Linked DNA regions of Homo sapiens. The protein of the gene in region 2 purifies or fractionates together with the protein of the main gene of each other region. This does not show direct contact. Each region holds a gene or a part of one and is shown on either strand. Other genes may lie near its edges.

Region 1 (3,747 bases), about 43 Mb from region 2:
TCAGCTCACTGTAACCTTCGCCTCACAGGTTCAAGCGATTCTCCTGCCTTAGCCTCCTGAGTGGCTGGGATTACAGGCACATGCCACCACACCTGGCTAATTTCTTTTGTATTTTTAGTAGAGACAGAGTTTTACCACGTTGGTCAGGCTGGTCTCGAACTCCTGACCTTGTGATCCGCCTGCCTTGGCCTCCCAAAGTGCTGCGATTACAGGCGTGAGCCACCACACCCAACAACCTCTCCTTCTATCTTCCATCTCCCCTCTGACTGAGCCTCCTGCTCCCTCTTATAAGGACCCTATAAGACTACAAGGCAGGACCGGCACAGTGCCTCACACCTGTAATCCCAGCACTTTGGGAGGCCAAGACAGGAGGATCACTTGAGGTCAGGAGTTCGAGACCAGCCATGGCCAACATGCTGACACCCCATCTCTACTAAAAATACAAAAATTAGCAGGGCTTGGTGGTGCACGCCTGTAGAGTCAGCTACTCGGGAGGCTGAAGTGGGAGGACCACCTGAGCCCAGGGAGGGTGAGGCTGCAGTGAGCTGTGACAGCATGACTGCACTCCAGCCTGGGTGACAGAGAGACCCTGTCTCCAAAAAAAAAAAAAGACTACATGATAATCATAAGATCCTTCACTTGGCCGGGCACGGTGGCTCACGCCTGTAACCCCAGCACTTTGGGAGGCCAAGGTGGCCAGATCCCCTTTGGTCGGGAGCTCAAGACCAGCCTGACCAACATGGAGAAACCTCGTCTCTACTAAAAATACAAAATTAGACAGGCGTGGTGGCACATGCCTGTAATCCCAGCTACTCAGGAGGCTGAGGCCGGACAATCGCTTGAACCCGGGAGGTGGAGGTTGTGGTGAGCCGAGGTCGTGCCATTGCACTCCAGCCTGGGCAACAACAGCGAAACTCTGTCTCAAAAAAAAAAAAGATGCTTCACTTAACACATCAGCGAGAACCTCTGACACGTGAGGTAATGTCGTCACACCTTCCGAGGATTAGGACGTGGACCCCTCTACGGAGTCACGACTCTGCCCACCACACCCATGTCCCACAGAGGCTAACGCTGGCAACAAGATAGTGTCCAGCAACAGGAGGCTGAGCAGGTAAACAGCACTGCACCCACAGGAGAGAAGGGCACCATGCAATACAGTGGCCACCAGCCACAGAGGCTAATTTTTAAGAAAGTTTAAATTAAGTAGGCTGGGCGAGGTGGCTCACGTCTGTAATCCCAGCACTTTGGAGGCCGAGGCAGGCGGATCACCTGAGGGCAGGTGTTTGAGACCAGCCTGGCCAACATGGCAAAACCCCGTCTCTGCGAAAAATACAAAAATTAGCCGGGCGTGGTGGCGCACGTGTGATCTCAGCTCCTGGGGACGCCAAGGTGGGAGGATCACCTGAGCCCAGGAGGTCAAGGCTGCAGTGAGCCAAGATCGCGCCACTGCACTCCAGCCTGGGCGACAGAGCCAGATTCTGCCTTTAAAAATAAACGAACAAATAAATAATACAAAACAACAAAATAAAGAGTTTAAAAGTCTGGAAGGAAAGCAACATTTACAAGGGCCCAGGCTCGCCCTTCCCTCCGAGTGACCTTGGGCCGGTGACCTGGCCGGCCAGAGCGCAGGTTTGCCCCACTCCGGGCGGGCACTGCGGGTCGGGAGCTACGGGGCCTGGACCCGGGTGCGAGGGGCGGGGGTCTCCGCCGCCTTCCCGGCCCCTGCGCTGGGGGCCCGCCTTGACCGCGCACGCGGGGCTAGAATGTACTCACTTGAGCAGCACGGCGGCGCCTGCTACCGTGCCCAGCGCCGACAGCGGCAGCAGGTAGCGGCTCATGCCGGGCCGGGGACAGGCGTCAGGCGTCAGGGGTCGGCGCGGAGCTTGCTGCACACCAGCCGCCTGGGTAGCTCCGAGGAAGAGCGCGCGACGCAGCCACAGGCGAGCGGAGGCGCAGGCGCGGCTGGGCCCGCGTCCGGAACTGGGCTGCGAGGGGCGGGGCGCGGGCGGAGGGGGCGGGGATCCTAGGGACGGGACCTATGAGCATCGGTCCTGAGCGCTGTCACAGCTGGGATTGGTGGTTTCAGGAGCCTGTGGGCGTGGCTAGTCCGGGGGCGGGGCCTATGGTTTGTTCGAATGACGTCACACTTGCCGCAGCGTATAAGGCGCTACGCAGTTCTGGAGTGAAATAGGTTCGAATCCCACCACTGTCAATTCCAGACTGTGACCCTCTGTGTGTCTTTCAACTATATCAGCCTATTCCCTCATCTGGAAATGTGTGTTTACCTTCTTCATAGACTTTTGGAGATAATTTGAGAATTTCCATGCACAGAAACAAGGATCTAGTAGCCTGTGGGTACCCAAGCTCCTGGGGTCCTGCAGGAGAAGGCGGCTGGGGGCCTGGACTCCTGGGTCTGAGGGAGGAGGGGCTGGGGGCCTGGACTCCTGGGTCCAAGGGAGGAGGGGCTGGGAGCATGGACTTCTGGGTCCGAGGGAGGAGGGCCGGGTGCCTGGACTGCTGAGTCTGAGGGAGGAGGGGCTGGGGGCCTGATTCATTCCCAAATTATCAGAATCTCATCCCCATGTCTGGCCCTGCACAGAGATATCTTCCCTGAACTCTGCCTGAACTACCTTTCTTAGATTGAGTATTGCACACACTCCTGCACTTACCTGTCCATGTTTGTCACCCCCACCAAACCGGGATGCACCTCTGGGCACCTGCTTCCCCTTGCACTGCTCACAGCGAGTGTATCTGATCACCACCTCCTACCCCTGACTGTGCCTGAGGTGCCAGGAGCAGACACCGCTGGAAACAGGGAAGAATTCAACCCAATCTAACTAGGAGTAAGTTTTCTTCCTCATCAGATGAACTGTCATCTTCTTATATGAGCCCTGCCATAATGGAGATTATACAGGCAGGAAGAGCTATTTTAAGACCTTAGTCAATGGCCGGGCACGGTGGCTCACGCCTGTAATCCCAGCACTTTGGGAGGCCGAGACAGATGGATCACGAGGTCAGGAGATTGATACCAGCCTGGCCAACATGGTGAAACCCTGTCTCTACTAAAAATACAAAAATTAGCTGGATGTGGTGGCACTCACCTGTAGTCCCAGCTACTCAGGAGGCCGAAGCAGGAGCATCACTTGAACTCGGGAGGTGGAGGTTGCAGTGAGCCGAGATTGCCCTACTGCATTCCAGCCTGGCGACAGAGTGAAATTCTGTCAAAAAAAAAAAAACCTTAGGCCTGTAGACCTTAAGCTCTCACCATCTCAAACGTATTAAACCAGTTACACAATGCCAAATGCTGTATAAGAGGCACTTGGAGGAGTCAAATTCATAGAGACAGAAAACAGAGTGGTGGCTGCAGGGGGCTGGAGATGAGATTGGGAAGTCACAGGATTTGTTTTTGTTTGTTTGTTTGTTTTGTTTTGTTTTTTGAGAGACAGTCTCACTGTGTCACCCAGGCTGGAGAGCAGTGGGCGATCTCAGCTCACTGCAACCTCTGCCTCCTAGGTTCAAGCGATTCTCCTGCCTCAGCCTCCCGAGTAGCTGGGGCTACAGGCACGTGTCACCACACCCGGCTAATTTTTGTATTTTTAGTAGAGACGGGGTTTCACCATGTTGGCCAGGTTGGTCTCAAACTCCTGACCTCAGGTGATCCACCTGCCTCGGCCACCCAAAGTGCTGGGATTACAGGCATGAGCCACCGCACCCGGCCGGGAAGCTGTTTTTTAATAGATACAGAGT
Region 2 (3,747 bases):
GCCTCGGCTTCCCAAAGTGCTGGGATTACAGGCGTGAGCCACCGCGCCCAGCCCAGGGGTTAGCTTTTTACAGGAATGATATACCAGAAGATTCCTCCCACCCCAGTGCATCCACCTGATCCTTTGGGAGGCCCCACTCCAACACCTCAGGCTGTCCTCTGGGAAGAGTGACCCAAGGGCCGATATCCACTAGGCCCTCCATGAGATTGGCAGCTTCCAGCATCTTAGGGTAGCCCCAGAAAGTTCCATAACACAGGGCCTGGAAAAGATACAGGGTGGGCTGAGGTCACATCACCCTGTAAAGGACATACTGAGAAGGCATCTGTGCCTAGGGGAGATAAAAGAGGCACAAAGGTTTGGTTTTTTTTACAGCAGTGTCAGGTGGTTATTCTCTTCTTCCTCACATGTGAAATGTTAAGGAAAACAAAATAAATCTGTTTAAAAAGAGCCATACATTGCTATCTGAAAACAAACGACAAAATTCTGTGTCTATTTGAAATATCGTCTTGCTGACAAAGGGTTCATAACGTTACTGGGAATTGAGGAGTGAAGTTAGCATATGGAAGGCTCTGGAAACCAAAAGATTTACTGTTAGCCCCAAGAGGAGTTAGGATGAAGGGACAGGTCTCAAAGACCCTGATGCCAATATCTTTGAAAGCCTCGGAGGAGAAATGGTCGCCCTTGGAAAGAAAGGACTGAAGAGCACAGAGACCACAGCTCCTCCCACACACAAACCCCACACACGAGTCTGGTTTGTGCCTAGTGACCCTCCCACCGTCACCGTGCAGCCTCCTCACCGGGCTCACAGGAACTGCGAGCCAGGCTGGAGGCGAGATTGCAGTTAGATATTAACCAGGTGCCCTCAGCCCCGCTGCTTCACAGGAAGCCGCCTCCCTGAGAGTCAGGTCACAGCAGACGCTGACCGCCGGCTTCCCCATTGGCCTGGGGATAAGATCTCTGAGAGTTGCTCAAGAGTCGTCTAAGTTCTTTCTCAGATCTTGAATTCCAGCGGAAAGGCTGGCGCCAAGCAGGCTGAAGACCCCACAAGGAAGCCCACTCAGCAGCAGAATGCGGTTTCTTCACCTCCAGTCCCAAGATTCACCCCTCACTTCTCCACCAACCAGCGACCCCACATCCCAACCACCCCCGTCCAGACCCCTAAACACCCCATCCTCAAACCTCTCACGGAGGCGGATCTAGGGTGTCCTCTCCTATTAAACCGTTTCTGCTGCAGCCCTCGGCGTCCGGGTGCAGTGACTTGGGCTGCGAACCTGTACTGGTTCCGCCGCACAATCTGGGGAGAAGCGGGGCTGAGGGCGCGGAGCTGCCCAGAGAGGGGCGCCGGGGCCGGGGCCGCAGTCGCAGCTCAGGGACGGGACAGGACGCCCGGGGTCCCGGCTGCCGGCCCAGCCCCACCCTGCGGCCAAACGGACCGAGGACCGAGGTGCGCAGGGGGCGCTCAGGTCCCAGACCCCAAAGACGCTGCGGCGAGGCCCGGGTCCCGCCACAGCCGGTTCCGACTGGTTCCGACCAGCCCTTCGCCCTGCCTCAGGACGCCGGGCCCCGCACACTCACCATTTCCCGGCTGTGCGGTGTCCCGGGTCCTCCCAACTCCCGTAGTCAGGGTAGGTCCCAGCGCGACAAAAGCCACCACAGATGTCCCAGGGCGTCTCTCAGTGACAGAATACGGAACAGAGGTCACCAGGGTGAAGAGGCCACTAGCTCCTGGAACGTCACACCCTCCTCTCTGCCTCGCGCCTGATTGACAATTCTCAGGAACCCGCCCACGACTTTGATTGGGTAGCCCTCCAGGTCCCGCCTCCTGGGCACTGAGTGACAGAAGAAGCGATCTCACAGTGCTGAGTGCAGCCGGATGAACAGGTTCCAGACCCGGCCCCTGGCAGGGCGGGCTTCCTCCCTGCGTTGTGACCCGACCCGTCCCGGGAAACGTTTGCCTTAAAGCGGAATTTCCTACCTGTACGCAGTGGGCCCTTTTTGCTTCTTCCTCCTGAACAATTGTGTGCAAGGAATCCCAGACTCACTGTCCAGTGGAGCCATCCCTTGGCCTCAGAGCAGGAGGGCAGCCGAGGCCACACAGGCCACACTGTAGCAGCGGGGGACAGGGGGTGGGTGGGTGGGGGGGTGGTGCTGATGTCCTCCAGGGACCAGGAATTTGGGATGAGGCTGTCGCCTGCAAGGTCAAGCCTTTCTTCCACTATAAGCGCTGGATGGGTTCTTTCTGCGCGCTACGCAAATAAAGACCACGGTATTGCAGTTAAAAAAAAAGTTTAATAAACACTAGGCCAGCTACGATACGTGAGAGACGGAGTTACTACTCAAATTATTCTCATCCAAGGTCCTCTGGTAGGGGTTTTTCAAGGGCAGTTTGGGAGAAAGGGTGGAGGTAGCTAGGCTTGCTACTGACTGGTTGGGGTGGGGATGAAATCACTGGGGATGGAATCTGTCCTCTTGGCAGTGCGTGGTGGCTCACCGCTGTAATCCCAATACTTTGGGAGGCCTAGGTGGGAGGATCGCTTGAGGCCAGTAGTTCAAGACCAGCCTGGACATAGAGTGAAACTCCGTCTCTATACTATAAGGGAGGAGACCACCCCTCATATTGTCTTATGCCCAATTTCTGCCTCCAAAGAAGAAGTAAAAACTAAAAGGCAGAAATGAAATCCACAGGCAGATAACCCGGCTTGTGCCCTGGGCTGGGTAGTTAAAAATCAACCTCTGACCTAACTGTGTTATCTATGATTCCAGACATTGTATGGAAAAGCACTGTGAAAATCCCTGTCCTGTTCTGTTCAGTTCTGGTTACCGGTGCATGCAGCCCCCAGTCACGTACCCACTGTTTGCTCCATCAATCACGACCCTCTCACGCGGACTCCTAGTTGTAAGCCCTTAAAAGGGACAAGAATTGCTCACTCGGGGAGCTCGGTTTTTGGAGACGTGAGTCCGCCGATGCTCCCAGCCCAGCTGAATAAAGCCCTTTCCTTCCACAACTCGGTGTCTGAGGGGTTCTTGTCTGCGGCTTGTACTGCTACATATTTAAAAAAGAAAAAAAGAGGCCGGGCCCGGTGGCTCACACCTGTAATCCCAGAACTTTGGGAGGCCCAGGCGGGCGGATCACCTGAGGTCGGGAGTTTGAGACCAGCCTGACCAACATGGAGAAAGCTCGTCTCTACTAAAAATACAAAATTAGCTGGGCGTGGTGGCACATGTCTGTAATCCCAGCTACCTGGGAGGCTAAGGCGGGAGAATCACTTGAACCCGGGAGGTGGAGGTTGCGGTGAGCTGAGATCGCGCCAAGCCGAGATCGTGCCTTTGCACTCCAGCCTGGGCAACAAGAGCGAAACTCCGTCTCAAAAAAAAACAAAAAAAAGACAAAAAAAAAAAAAACCTATCCTGTTATGCTGAATCACTTCTGGTTGGGGCCACAGGAGCAGAGTTGGCAGGTGCAGGTGGTGTCAGACATGCAAAAAAAAAACAAACAAACAAACAAAAACTGAAAATACGTCTACAAATGCTAATCTACAATAGTGGTGTTATCTGCAGAAATAGCTGGCAATCTATGTCTACACTTTAGCAGCATTCCGATTCCTTTCATCCCTCAGCCTGATGGCCATTCATTCGTTTTACAAAGGCAGTTGAGTTTTGGGGAAGGCTTATTATCATTTAAGCTATCTTCCAAAGTTAGCTGTGCCTAAGAGCCCAGGATTAAGGGAAAGAGAAGACAGAGGGTTG

What was found. The genes of interacting proteins can lie anywhere in the genome.
Region 1: the proteins of ZNF44 (region 2) and RDH13 purify together in Homo sapiens (affinity purification with mass spectrometry; 2 studies listed by BioGRID and IntAct, with this or other methods). This does not show direct contact.

The regions. Positions count from the first base shown.
Region 1 is NC_000019.10:55,061,195-55,064,941, forward strand, and holds the start of RDH13 (retinol dehydrogenase 13 isoform 1 precursor), read right to left. Parts: upstream 1,955-3,747; 5' UTR 1,839-1,954; coding exon 1,774-1,838; intron 1-1,773. UniProt on the Homo sapiens protein: Retinol dehydrogenase with a clear preference for NADP. Oxidizes all-trans-retinol, but seems to reduce all-trans-retinal with much higher efficiency. Has no activity toward steroids.
Region 2 is NC_000019.10:12,293,117-12,296,863, forward strand, and holds the start of ZNF44 (zinc finger protein 44), read right to left. Parts: upstream 1,768-3,747; 5' UTR 1,579-1,767; coding exon 1,576-1,578; intron 1,497-1,575; exon of another isoform or gene 1,180-1,496; intron 260-1,179; coding exon of another isoform or gene 116-259; intron 1-115. UniProt on the Homo sapiens protein: May be involved in transcriptional regulation.